Regions from separate parts of the Homo sapiens genome. Here all the other regions are linked to region 3. The links come from fine-mapping of genetic effects on gene expression. A gene starts in region 3. Each other region holds a variant in brackets. All regions are shown on one strand. Distances are between the middles of the regions.

The links. PIP is the estimated chance that this variant, and not a neighbour inherited with it, causes the effect.
Region 1: its variant is the best candidate, but not a certain one, in a credible set for the expression of SNX30 in monocytes (Fairfax 2014, PIP 0.66).
Region 2: its variant is the best candidate, but not a certain one, in a credible set for the expression of SNX30 in monocytes (TOPMed, PIP 0.55).

What each region holds. Positions count from the first base shown.
Region 1 is chr9:112,809,374-112,813,491 of GRCh38, reverse strand. All of the region lies in intron 2 of SNX30 (sorting nexin family member 30), which reads right to left. Among named protein-coding and RNA genes, the nearest start is that of SNX30, 61 kb to the right of the region's middle. RefSeq lists an enhancer at 2,032-2,942. The variant A/T (reference allele first, on the strand shown) is at 1,769.
Region 2 is chr9:112,834,742-112,838,859 of GRCh38, reverse strand. SNX30 (sorting nexin family member 30) reads right to left here. Exons shown (of 9, transcript NM_001012994.2): 5 at 2,451-2,646; 6 at 163-362. Among named protein-coding and RNA genes, the nearest start is that of SLC46A2, 54 kb to the left of the region's middle. The variant G/A (reference allele first, on the strand shown) is at 2,192.
Region 3 is chr9:112,749,162-112,753,279 of GRCh38, reverse strand. SNX30 (sorting nexin family member 30) reads right to left here and starts at 2,520. Exons shown (of 9, transcript NM_001012994.2): 1 at 2,123-2,520. The coding sequence starts at 2,278. SNX30-DT (SNX30 divergent transcript) reads left to right here and starts at 2,715. Exons shown (of 1, transcript NR_186503.1): 1 at 2,715-4,118. RefSeq lists enhancers at 832-1,751, 1,752-2,673 and a silencer at 1,943-2,762.

The DNA.
Region 1 (4,118 bases), 60 kb before region 3:
CTCGCAAAAAAAAAAAAAAAAATTAAATACAGTCCCCCAGGCTGGAAGGCAGTGGCACAATCATAGCTCACTGTAGCCTCAAACTCCTGGGCTCAGGCAATCCTCCCACCTCAGCCTCCCAAGTACCTGGACTACAGGCACATGCCACCATATCTGGCTGATTTTTGGTGGTTTTTTTGTTTGTTTTTTTTGTAGAGATAGGCGTCTCACTATGTTGCCCAGGCTGGTCTCTAACTCCTGACCTTAAGCAATCCTCTGTCTCAGCCTTCCAAAGTGATGGGATCACAGGCATGAGCCACCACAACCAGGGTATAAGACATTGTTGTTTTGGGGGGTTTTTTTTGAGATGGAGTCTCACTCTGTCGACCAGGCTGGAGTATAGTGGCATGATCTCGGCTCACTGCAACCTCCACACCTCCCAGGTTCAGGTGATTCTCCTGCCTTAGCCTCCCAAGTAGCTGGGACTACAGGCGTGCGCCACCACACCCAGATAATTTTTGTATTTTTAGTAGAGACGGGGTTTCACCATGTTGACCAGGCTGGTCTCAAATTCCTGACCTCAAGTGATCCACCCACCTCAGCTTCCCAAAGTGCTGGGATTATAGGCATGAGGCACCATGCCCGGCCTGTTGTTTTAAGGGAAAATGGGAGGATACAAAATTAATTGTACATAAGGATTTCATTTACATTAATATCTGGATATTAAAAAATTTAGAAGAAAAATTTAAAGCTAATAATGAGAACTGTCCTCTTTATATTCACTCTTATTTCCAAATTTTACACCATTCTCATACACTATTTTTATAGTCTCACACACACACAATGCTCATTTTTTAAAAGCTCCTTTAAGGACATTGGGAACTTAATACAGCAAGAAAAACCTGCTTGATGCTTTGGAAAGCAATAACGTAAGAAGTTATCATGAAAGGGATGCTCAAGGTCCACTACGGTGGCTCACACCTGTAATCCCAGCACTTTGGGAGGCCAAGGTGGGCAGATCACTTGGTCAAGAGTTCAAGACCAGCCTGGCCAACATGGTGAAACCCCATCTCTACTAAAAACACAAAAATTAGCCGGGTGCGGTGGTCCATGCCTGTAGTCCCAGCTACTCGGGAGGCTGAGGCAGGAGAATTGCTTGAATCTGGGAGGCGGAGGTTGCAGTGAGCCGAGATCGCATCACTACACTCCAGCCTGGGTGACACAGGATGACTCCGTCTCAAAAAATAAATAAATAAATAAATGGATGCTTGCACACTCTCTGACCCAGTATTTATTTTACTTATTTTTACCACAATTTGTTCTAGAAAAGATATAGTGATAGGTAAAATACAATCAAATGACATAAATTAGAAGTAGGTGAAAAGGAAAGAAAAAACAAGGACAGAGGGAAAAAGTAGAGCCAGGAATGAGGCTAGCAAAACACACTCACAATGAAACACTGCACACCAGCTGAAACTGGGCCAGAGACACTACTTGGAATTTCTGGAGAGAAACACATTTATAGGACTCACAGTATTCATAAAACAGGCAGACCAGTAAAACTCCAAAGATAAGTTTGTAGTAAATTTTTCCTCCATGAAATTCAGGATCTAACTTAGGAAAATTTAAAAATATACATTTATCTCTATTTTTGAATACCTATAGTAAACAATTTTTTAAAAGAACGAAAAGCATACACACACAATTCCATAATCAGAGACAACCACTACATCATTTTGTTCTATGTCCTTCCACATCGTGTGTCCACAATGCAGAATGTCCAAAGATC[A/T]CAAGGTCACGGGCGCACATGTACAGTCAGGTCTAAGAACAGGTGACCAAGCACAAGAATCATAGTCAAGAAGGCTCATTTTTGCTATGCTAGAAGTGTAACACCATCACTCCACGTGGATACGTCCCTGGTCATCTCCAGACATCCCTGGAAATTTTTTTTTCCTTCAGAAGTTCAACATTTTAGAAGACCCAGCACAGAATGACAGTCTAATCGGTCATCCAGCAGGGCACTCCACCTACTGGGCCCCACTCACCCTACCACATAAGGTCTCCCCTTATGCCCCAAGAGCTGACATGCCCAACAACTGTGGCCCAAGGCCGTTCCGAAGAACGTCCATTTGATCCAAAATTTACAATTGAGTCACTCCAGAGAGACGTGGTCTTTATCACAAGTGCCATCTGTCCAGGCCACAGCTGGGTCTTAAGAATTCTAGGCAACCCCCATCTCCCAACAAAGGGATCTCTTCCCTTATCAAACAAAAACCAGCTAGTCCCATTCTGCCTCAAAACCCCACTGCCCTGAGAATGACAAGTAGAGGCTTCCAGCCTTTCATCCTCACGCTCCTCTGCCTTCCTTTCTTCCAACATGGACTTCCACTTATCTCGTTCCTCTCAGATCTTTCTGCCAAGCTCTCTGGAAGACCCACGCCATAGTTAATAAAGTCTTGTCGTTCTTCTGCCCATTCAAATTCTGAAACCTGGCTCTCCCTGAGAATCGGGCCTCCCTGCCATCGGTCCCTCTGTGAGCTGCTCGCATTCCACAAGCCTCGCCCAGCCCCCAAGGCCAGGAGCTGCTGCTGACATGCTCCTCGTTCCACACAGCTCCTGACCACCACTCCCCAACCGCCCTGTGAAAACCCTTCTGAGGCTCGTGCCATCCAGTGACATACATCCTGTATCTCTCCCGCACAGCTGTCATCCACTGACAGCTCTGCCATTTCTCCTGATGCCCTGAAGATTCAAGCAGCTGGCTCTCAGGCTTCCTTTCCAAGCCCTTCCACAACCTAAGTGCCCTCGAGATCCAGGTGGCTCATACATACAACACCAGCCTCTAAGCAAGCAATGTTTCCTTCCATTCCACAGCCTCTCCCAGACCGTCACCAGGGAGAAACCCACACATCTCCCTCTAAACGGCATCCCCTATATTTCAGGCTCTTCCTCTTCCCAACATCCTTGGTTTCTCAGCCTCTTGGGACCTAAAGTTCCTTGACATTCCATCCATTCATGTCTTTACTTCCTTCCTTCTTTACTCAGCATCCATTCCATGGCCCAGAACTTCAATCACTTACAGCAATATCTAAATGTTGTTCCCTCCCCACTGCCCATTCACCCAACTCGTAAAAACCCACTTGCTCTACCAGACCTGGGTGTGTGAGCACACTGCTAGAGGAGAAACAAAATCAAGCAAACACACGGACAGACACGATACATTCTACAACCAGACCCTCCAACATTGCCAGGCACCCTTTTCATACTCCCTTACGTCAGCTCACTCCCACACTGTCCAAATCATTTATCAAAAAGCCCATAAAAGTTGTGAAAATTTCTAATCCCCACTTCAAACCACCCCCACCCTTAGAAGGCTTCATCATCTATTCAGAGAGAAAACTCCAGATATAAGCAAAGAACCCCTTAACTTCCTGCCACAAAACAAACTTCCCTTCCTTCTCCACAAACAATGGAAAAAGTACACCGCCCCTTCGGTGGCAATTCTAGCTTCCTCCGCCTTCCCAGGAGCCTCCATCCTACTCTCCAATCTTCAACCTAATGCCTTCTTCTCTACCAATACTGCGCAACTGGCAGTTAAACAAGTCTCTTTCATCCTTAAAAACAGCAGCAGTCCAAAAAAAAAAGCCTCCCTCTCCCTCAAACCCATGCCCACTTCTGACCACTGCTCTCTATGCTTGTTTTCATTGCCAGAATTCTAACACTCTTCTCTCTCTTACCCCTCGCTCACTCTAACCCACTTGGGTTCTGCATCACTACACCAATGAAACTGCTCACACCACAACCAGCAATAACTGTGTCATTAAACTAACGTCCACTTTGCATTGTACATAATTCAGCCTCGGAGCAGCATTTAGACTCTGTTGACCACTGAGGCATTTAGAAAGAGGAACTAGTTGGGGTGTTATGACTCTTTTTCTTTTTTTTTTTACACACCACTGGTAATGAGGCTAAACACAAGAAAATAATAAACCCTGAAGGGAATTGAAGGCTCGCCTCTGTTTCCTCACCCTCAAGCCTACTTCTGTATTGTCAGTTTCAACCACACAGGCCATGCTACTGGACCACAGTGCTGGGTATCGGGGCCATCCCTCTCTTGAAAATCATGTCTTTTGGGCCAG
Region 2 (4,118 bases), 86 kb before region 3:
GTGTTCCATTTATATGTCCATGATGTCAGTCCACGTGTCTGATCCTGCCCACCCAGGAAGAAGGAAACTTATATCACATGCAAACAGGCAATAATCCATTACTTTCTGATAACTGCTATTACAAAGAAAGTATGCAAATACACAAGAAGCAAGCCAGCTTACCTTCATGGAGTCAGAGTATAAAATATATTCCCTGAGCACAGGTAGGAAGTCTTCTGTCATGTCATCTGTCAGCTCTTCTAAGGCTGTAGAGCAGTTCCCAATGCAAGCTGACACACCCTCCAGGGGTTCAGCCAGCTCACCCTCCAAGGCGCTCCATGTGGAGTACACAGGCCCGTATTCTCTCAGCTCCACAAGGTACTCTGAACAGGGAACAGAAACTAATTAAAATCTGGCTGGGTAGCAGTTGCTGCTATTACTGACTCAGTAATCACCACAGCCAAGAGCTCTCTACATGAACATGTGTTTCTTTGGCCATTCACTCACCTGATCCCACTCTTCTTTAAACACAACACTGTTTCTAGCACAACTGCTTAAAAACCTCTGACAGCTCATGTTACATCAATCCATTCCATCCCGTGATGGGAATGCCATCCCTCTGGATAATGGGCCTTATGGGGAAAAGCAGTAGCAGCCACATCCACCAAACATCTTCGAAAATAACCACTCGCTGGCCTGGTGGTGGCTCATACCTGTAATCCCAGCACTTTAGGAGGCCAAGGTGGGTGGATCACAAGGTCAGGAGATCGAGACCATCCTGCTAACACAGTGAAACCCCGTTTCTACTAAAAATACAAAAAAATTAGCCGGGTGTGGTGGCAGGCGCCTATAGTCCCAACTACTCAGGAGGCTGAGGCAGGAGAATTGCTTGAACCCAGGAGGCAGAGGTTGCAGTGAGCCAAGATCACTCCACTGCACTCTAGCCTGGGCAACAAAGCGAGACTCCGTCAAAAAAAAAAAAAAAAAAAAAAAGAAAAGAACCACTCGCCTACCCATAGTGTGAAGCAGTATTTTAACAGGCAATGGAGGCAGAGTTTCATATAGGTTTAGGGAGATGTTTTTAAAGGTTAAAAAATAAAATCAGGGGCCAGGCACGGTGGCTCACACCTGTAATCCCAGCACTTTGGGAGGCCGAGGTGGGTGGATCATGGGGTCAGGAGATCGAGACCATCCTGACTAACATGGTGAAACCCAATCTCTACTAAAAATACAAAAAATTAGCCAGGCGTGGTGGCGGGCACCTGTAGTCCCAGCTACTCAGGAGGCTGAGGCAGGAGAATGGCGTGAACCCGGGAGGCGGCGCTTGCAGTGAGCCGAGATGGTGCCACTGCACTCCAGCCTGGGCGACAGAGCAAGACTCTGTCTCAAAAAAAAAACCAAAAACCAAAAAACGAAAAACAAAAACAGTCACAATGGATAAACAATGGAATTTTAGGAAACATTTTGATACAAGAGATGTGGTCTTACACTGGCAGACTCACTCTATCACTCGGTGGCCACCTCAGCCCCTTGGATCCCATCAGAATTTACTCTGCAAGATCCTTAGGTGTGGATGGTATCCACAGCTATCTCCAAAACCTATGGGCCCCACATGGTATCATCAGTGGGTCAAGTAGAGGGAACAAGTACAAGAAATGAGAAAAAAAAAATGTTGATTTTTTTCCCCCGTAAAGAAAATCTGGCCCATCATTTGTCACCAAGAGTCTTGCCATTGTTGCAACAGAACACAGTCATCATGGCTTAGTGACCGATGAATGGCAACTGCTGGGGAATCCTCAACGTGCTTCCCATGCCAGTGCGATCATTTACACTGCTCACGTCTGTCCGCCCCATGCATATGTAAGGAGATAAAAGATCCCAACATTATGGGATGTGGCAAAGCAGGTGGCCCCGAGAGGGGTGGGAAGGAAGTGGAGGCAAAAACGAGGAAGGATCAATACAGGCCCTGGCAACTCCCCCATGCAGGAGTGGGTTTAAAATGAACCACGGTGGGGTGGGTGAGTCAATTACAAGTCTGAAGATTCATCAGGGTCATAACTTTGGCAAACACAGGTCTCCATGCTATCTTTCTGAACCATCTTTCTGCCAGAAAAGGTATCTAAGTTTGTTTACTAAATTATTGTTCCCTATGGATGAAGGGCAGTTGAGTCTATGTCTCCACTTTTAAAGCTAAAGTTAAGAGAGCATAAAA[G/A]AGGAAACACCTGGCGAATCAGCAGTGCTGGCCATGGGAAAAGCAAACACAAGGCTGACACAGCAGGACAAAGGACGGGGTGCAAAGTGACATTCCAGTCACAAGTAACTCCTCCCCTCCTTGTATTTCTTTGATAAGCAAAAGATGGCCTAGTTCTGTCACTCCAGCATTTTGCAGTTTGATTCTCTGTAGCACACATGAATGGCATTTCTGCCAATGTGGCTGCAGGGCATAATCGAGACCTCAACAGACAGCTCACCTATTTCTTCTTTGATGATCCGCTGGGCTATTCGATCAATGGTTCCCAGTTTGAGTGCAAATGTATCTAAGTAGTCACCTATGGCAGCAAACTCAAGCGGCCGAGTCCTCAGCTTGTAGCCGCCAGTGACGTGCTTGACTGACTCGCCCATTCTGGTCAGCAATGCTATCCCTTGCTTCTTGTAGGCGTTCAGGTCCTGAGGATGATATGTGAATAAGCTCAAAGCACTCACTCACTCACATGGGCAGGACTAAATAAAACAGCTTCTAAAAGCAGCTTCAGTTTGGAAATGGAGAACTCGGGAAACAAGGAGCTGAGTTAGAGGCTCTAATCACATTCACAGGAGGAACCTGGCCTGGACGTCATAACCACCAGACTCAGGCTCCTGTAGGTTGACACTTAAATCCCTTTCAGCAGAGCTGAACGCCAATCCTTAATCAAATTCACTCACCTGAGCACACTGCCCTTTAAACACAATGCTGTTTCTAACATAATTTTTTTTAAGTATCTGTTTCTCCCATACAAAGTACCCTATATTGTCTTTACAAGCAAAACTGAAGAGCAGAGGTTCCGAGATCCATCACTCATTTATTTATACCCCAACTAAAGCCATATAAGGGGAGTAAAGGGTGGAAAGCAGGAAACAGTGGCAGAAAAACATTGCTAGAAAACTCAGGCCTAGGATGGATGCTGTAAACAGCAAAACATTTTAACCCTGGATTTCTTGAAGGCAAAACTGGAAATATGTTGAGTTTCATAACCCATTGTATCTAAATATAAAGCTTATTAGCCAGGCTAGGCATGGTGGCTCATGCCTGTAATCTCAGTACTGTGGGAGGCTGAGGTGGGCAGATCACTTGAGGTCAGGAGTTCAAGACCAGCCTGGTCAACATGGTGAAACCCTGTCTCTACTAAAAATACAAAAAAAAAAAAAAAATTAGTTGGGCATGGTGGCATGCACCTGTAGTCCCAGCTACTCAGGAGGCTGAGGCACGAGAATCATTTGAACCTGGAAGGCAGAGGTTGCAATGAATTGAGATCGTGCCACTTCACTCCAGCCTGGGCAAAAAAGAAAAGCATATTAGCCTGCCTGATAAAACAAGCTTCCTCCTATCATCAAACACTAAGAGGAATCTATACAATCTTCAGGTTGTCCTGTGTCACCTACTGAAAGGGTAGCTTACAAAATGGTTTTACAGAAGGTACAGGTGTCTGTTCCTCATATCCACCCTCAATACAAACAGAATGTTAATCCCCAGACCTAGAAGGGTATAACTAGAGGGAGATAAAGGAACCCAGAACAAGGACACAGCTTTCTGGTGACGTGGCCTGATGCAGAGGATAGAGCAGAGAATGTGGAATGTGCGGCTAACATGGCCCAACAGCCCCTCCGCATTTGATGTACAATTTCAGGCTGAGGTCTCTATAGTATCTGAGTGTAGGCACCTCGTGAATTCACTTCCTTCTTCGCTTCCTTCTTTAGGCCTTCATTTTTGCTCTTGATCCAGCCTTTCCTATTGAGGTAGGTGTGTGTGTGTGTGTGTGTGTGTGTGTGTGTGTGTGTGTTTGTGTGTGTGTGTGTTTAATCCACGGTTCCTGGCTCATAACCTCCACAGACCTTGTTCCAGTCTTTTCACTATAATGTTGGGTGTGTTAAGCCTCAGGAAA
Region 3 (4,118 bases):
AGATCTTGGTGGTACGGGGAATTTGTCTTCCAAGTGCTTATTAGTAAAATGCTCATACTTCTGAGTCAGGTATCATCCATGAGTGAATCGTTAGGTAAATATTTTAAATGGCTATCTGTAGTAGCCAGTCTCCAAGATGGCCCAATGATCCCCACCTCTTGGTATACACACCCTGATATTCACACCCTCTCCCCACATTGTACCAGTGTCAATCTGTGTGACCAACAGAATACAGCAGAGGCATGTCATTTCCAAGATAAGTTATACAAGACTGGCTAGAGTCTTGAGCTCTCTTGGATCACTTGCTCTGGGGGGAAAAACCAGTTGCCACATCAAACAGCCCTATGGAGAGTAACTAAGACCTGCCAACAGCCATGTGAGTGAGCTTAGAAGTGGATCCTCCCCTAATCCAGCCTTCAGATGACTGCAGCCCAAGCCAACAACTTGACTGCAACCTCAAGAAAGGCCTAATTCAGAACCACTCAGATTGTCCCACAGACACTATTTCCAGGTGATAAGTTTTGGGGTAATTTGCTACACAGCAATAGATAATTAATTCAGTGTCCCACACAGAACTGAGAAGGAAATGAGGTTTAACCCCCAGTTCCTACACTATTTTAAGACCAATTTTTGTCGATAAGAAAGCAAATTTATTCAGTTATTCAACATTTTTTGGAGACAGGGTCTCACTCTCTTGCCCAGGCTGGAGTACAGCGGTGCAATCATAGCTCACTGCAGCCTTGAACTCCCAGGCTCAAGCAATCCTCCCGCCTCAGCCTCCTGAGTAGCCTGGATTACAGGTGCATGCCACCATGCTGTGTGCGTATGTGGAAACGGGGTCTCGATATGTTGCCCAGGCTGGTCTCAAACTTTTGGTTCAGAGCAATCATCCCACTTCAGCCTCCCAAAGTGCTGGTATTACAGGTGTGAGCCACTGCACCTGGCCTCCATTAGCTTTTTTAATTTTCCTGTTCCTAATGCTTTGGAACTTCACTCCCTGCTTTCACAAACCCTCTGCAGAAGGTACATCAAGTCGCACTCTCTAGTGATTTTAAGTGCTCAGTGACCTTCTGACTGCAAGGAGGGCAGGTTATATTTTCTCATACTCCTTTTTCACTGTACCACATGGTGTCCCCTCTAACGGGAGAAGAAAGTTAGGTCCCCTGCTCCCATTAATATTGGGACAAGGGGGAATTCATTTAGTATTTTACTAGGGAGAGAAAATCTTGATCACAAGACCTGAGAACAATTCTAATTTCTGCAGTTAGTGACTAAGTGACGGCAGGAGCGGGGATACAATCACTGCTCAAGTCTCCTTCACAGCTGAAATGGCCATGGGGGTAGGGAGGAGGTCGTCCCTTACCCCTGCCTGGACTCTGCTGTCTCTCCAAGCAGCAGGAGGGTTGTGCTGCTCTAAGAAAATCTGGAGCCTCCCTCCGTACAAAGAAGGTCAAAGGGCGAGCTTTCTTTCCATCAACCACAAAACCAGCCTCTGCCAAACCTAAACAGAGTGGTAGGCCGTCGGAGGTGAATGGAGCCCCAGACAGAAAACCACAACGAGGCTCTCCTCCCGCCGCCGGCTGGGGTCTGAGTCAGGTGACTCCTCAGGACAAACAGCAAACCTAAACAAAGATCACTCCCCACATGACTGACTAGGGGGAAGAAGACTCTCGCTGTAAGCCCAGGGCTGCCCGGTCCCAGCACGGAAAGCCAGGAACTCCTGCTTTCTGTGCAGTCTCGGAAACTGGAGGAGCTACAAGTTATGCAGCAGCTCAGCCTGCAGGGATGCACCTGGAGGAACTCGGAACCCCATCCGAGGACACAGGCGCCCTGCCCTGAACACACGCCTCCCGCTCCAACACGCAGGCTGGACCCCTCCCCACCAGCTGTCACCGGTGCTTGCGACCAGTCACAGGCAGCGAAGCCTGTCCCTCTGCGGCTGCGACCCCGCGGAGGCGGCAGAGGAGACGCTTCGCCGAGGGCTCCGGGGCCAGGACACGCCCGTCCCCCGGGAAGGGGCGGCAGGGTGGGCGCGGCCCCAGGCCCACGAAGGCTCCGGATCCATCATCCCCCCCACGGGGAGCGAAATAAGCCTCCCACTCCCCGGCCCCAGGCGCCCCACCTTGTCACCGAAGCTGCGGGCCATCAGCAGGTCCGGGCTGGGCGTGCTGTCACCACCCACGGCCTCCTCGCTGCTGGAGCCGGCCAGCGGGTGCGGCATGTCGCGCAGGGAGTGGGGCCCCGTGGACGGCAGGGCCTTGGGGGGCCCGCCCGCCATGGCGCGCACCGCTCGGGACGCGCCGCCGCCGCTTCCTCCTGCTGCCCGCCGCGGCGAGCTCCCCGAGCACCCCGGGCCGAGCCCCGCTCGGCCGCCGCTTAACCCGAGGCCTTGCACCGGCCGTGCTGGGGGCCGCCGCCACCCGCCGGCTGGTCTCTGCCGGCGCTCAGACGCTCCGCTCCGCGCCGCGCGCCCCCGCTCCGCGCCCGAGCCCGCCGCGGGTCCGCTGGCAGCACGGCCGCGGCGCCCAGCCCACACAGCCACACCGCCCACCCGCTCCGGCCCCGCCCCCGAGGCGCCGCGGCCGCCCGGGAGGGGGCGGGGAGGGCGGGGAAGGGGCACGTGGGGAAGGAAGGACGGAGGGAGGGAGGGAGGAGGCGCGGCCCCGCCCCCGCCCGGCAGGAAGTGCGCCCTGGGCCTCTGCGGCTGTCCTCCCAGTGTCCAACGTTGCCTCGCGGAGGCCGCCGTGCGGAGCAAATGTCTAACGGAAATCAGAGGTGGAAAAGAGGTTGGAGGAGCCTGTTCCGTTCCACCCGCGTTTACTGATGCGCCCACCAGCAGCCACGCTTGGGGCTGGGGGCTTTGAGGACACGCACGTGAGTCAGGGTCTTCTGGCCTCTAAGGCACGCGCAGGAAGAACCCTAGATAGACGGAATTACGACCCATATCGGAAGAATAGCATAAAGGGCGACAAGGCTCAAATGAGCTAGAGGACATCGGGTGGGGAACCTGGAAGGGACTTCAAAGAGGCGGTGTGGGGAGTCTTCAGGCTCACTCTGAGGTCCCCATTGTGGCTTGCTTCTGCAGCTGAGCTGGATTTGTGTAAAGTCAAACCTCAGAACAGCGAGCATGAGTAGAGAGTCTCAAATGATATGCGACTCTTCAACTCACACTTTGGCCGAAGAGACTTTTGAAAGAACCATGAGGTTCAAGTTATTCTTCATGCATTTGTGCTTCCTTTCCAGGCCTTGGGCTGAGCTGATTCTCAGCTTTATTTGCTGGCGTGGTGCAAATAGTCAAGGTGTTACTTCCAGCCCTTTGGGGTGTAGGTTCACCTCCTTTTTCCACCTTACCTGTCCCTAGATCTTCTGTTTCCAAGGCCAAGTCTTTAAAGGGTTTTCAGTCCCTCTAGCAAAGTAATGGGTAGGGAGGCTCATCGTGAGGGACCACATTTTCCCTACCCATTCCAAACTCAAAGGTTTGCCTAGCCTTACCTGCTAAAAGGTGATGACAGATGTTGACTCTGGGATTCACTAAGGCCTCTACCACAGTTTTCTCTAGAAACAAATAGAAGAGAATGCAGAGGGTTGAAATCTACCCAAAATATCAGTCAGAGACTCTGAGCTTCAAAGACCTTCCCCTATTTCCCCCAATGTAATTTATATAGGGTTGGACCCTTAGTCCTCAAGCTATCATCTTTATCTCCTCCACATAAGCCTGCCTTGGCTGGGAAAAGTAGCATTCAAAGGGCACTGGGAACAATTTTAAATGCTGCATCTAAGGAATGCCAAGTTCTGGTCCTCTTGGAGTTGGATTAAAATTGTTAACACTTTCACATTCAAGGGCTGCTTACAACTACTACAGACCCTATTATCTGTTCTTCTGAATTAGCATGAAAATGAATAGCACAATATAACTAGAAATGAGTATTTCTAGAAATGAGTATATACATCTATAGATGTATAACATCGGTTTTTCTTATTGAATGGTGCTACTTATTTTAACAACCAGGCTGCCTTAAATATAATGGACATCCGTATGGATTAAGACTCTATACAAGCTTTCTCTTTAGTACACCAGGGGAAAGTGAAAAAAGAACCACATTTGAATTCGGCTTTGT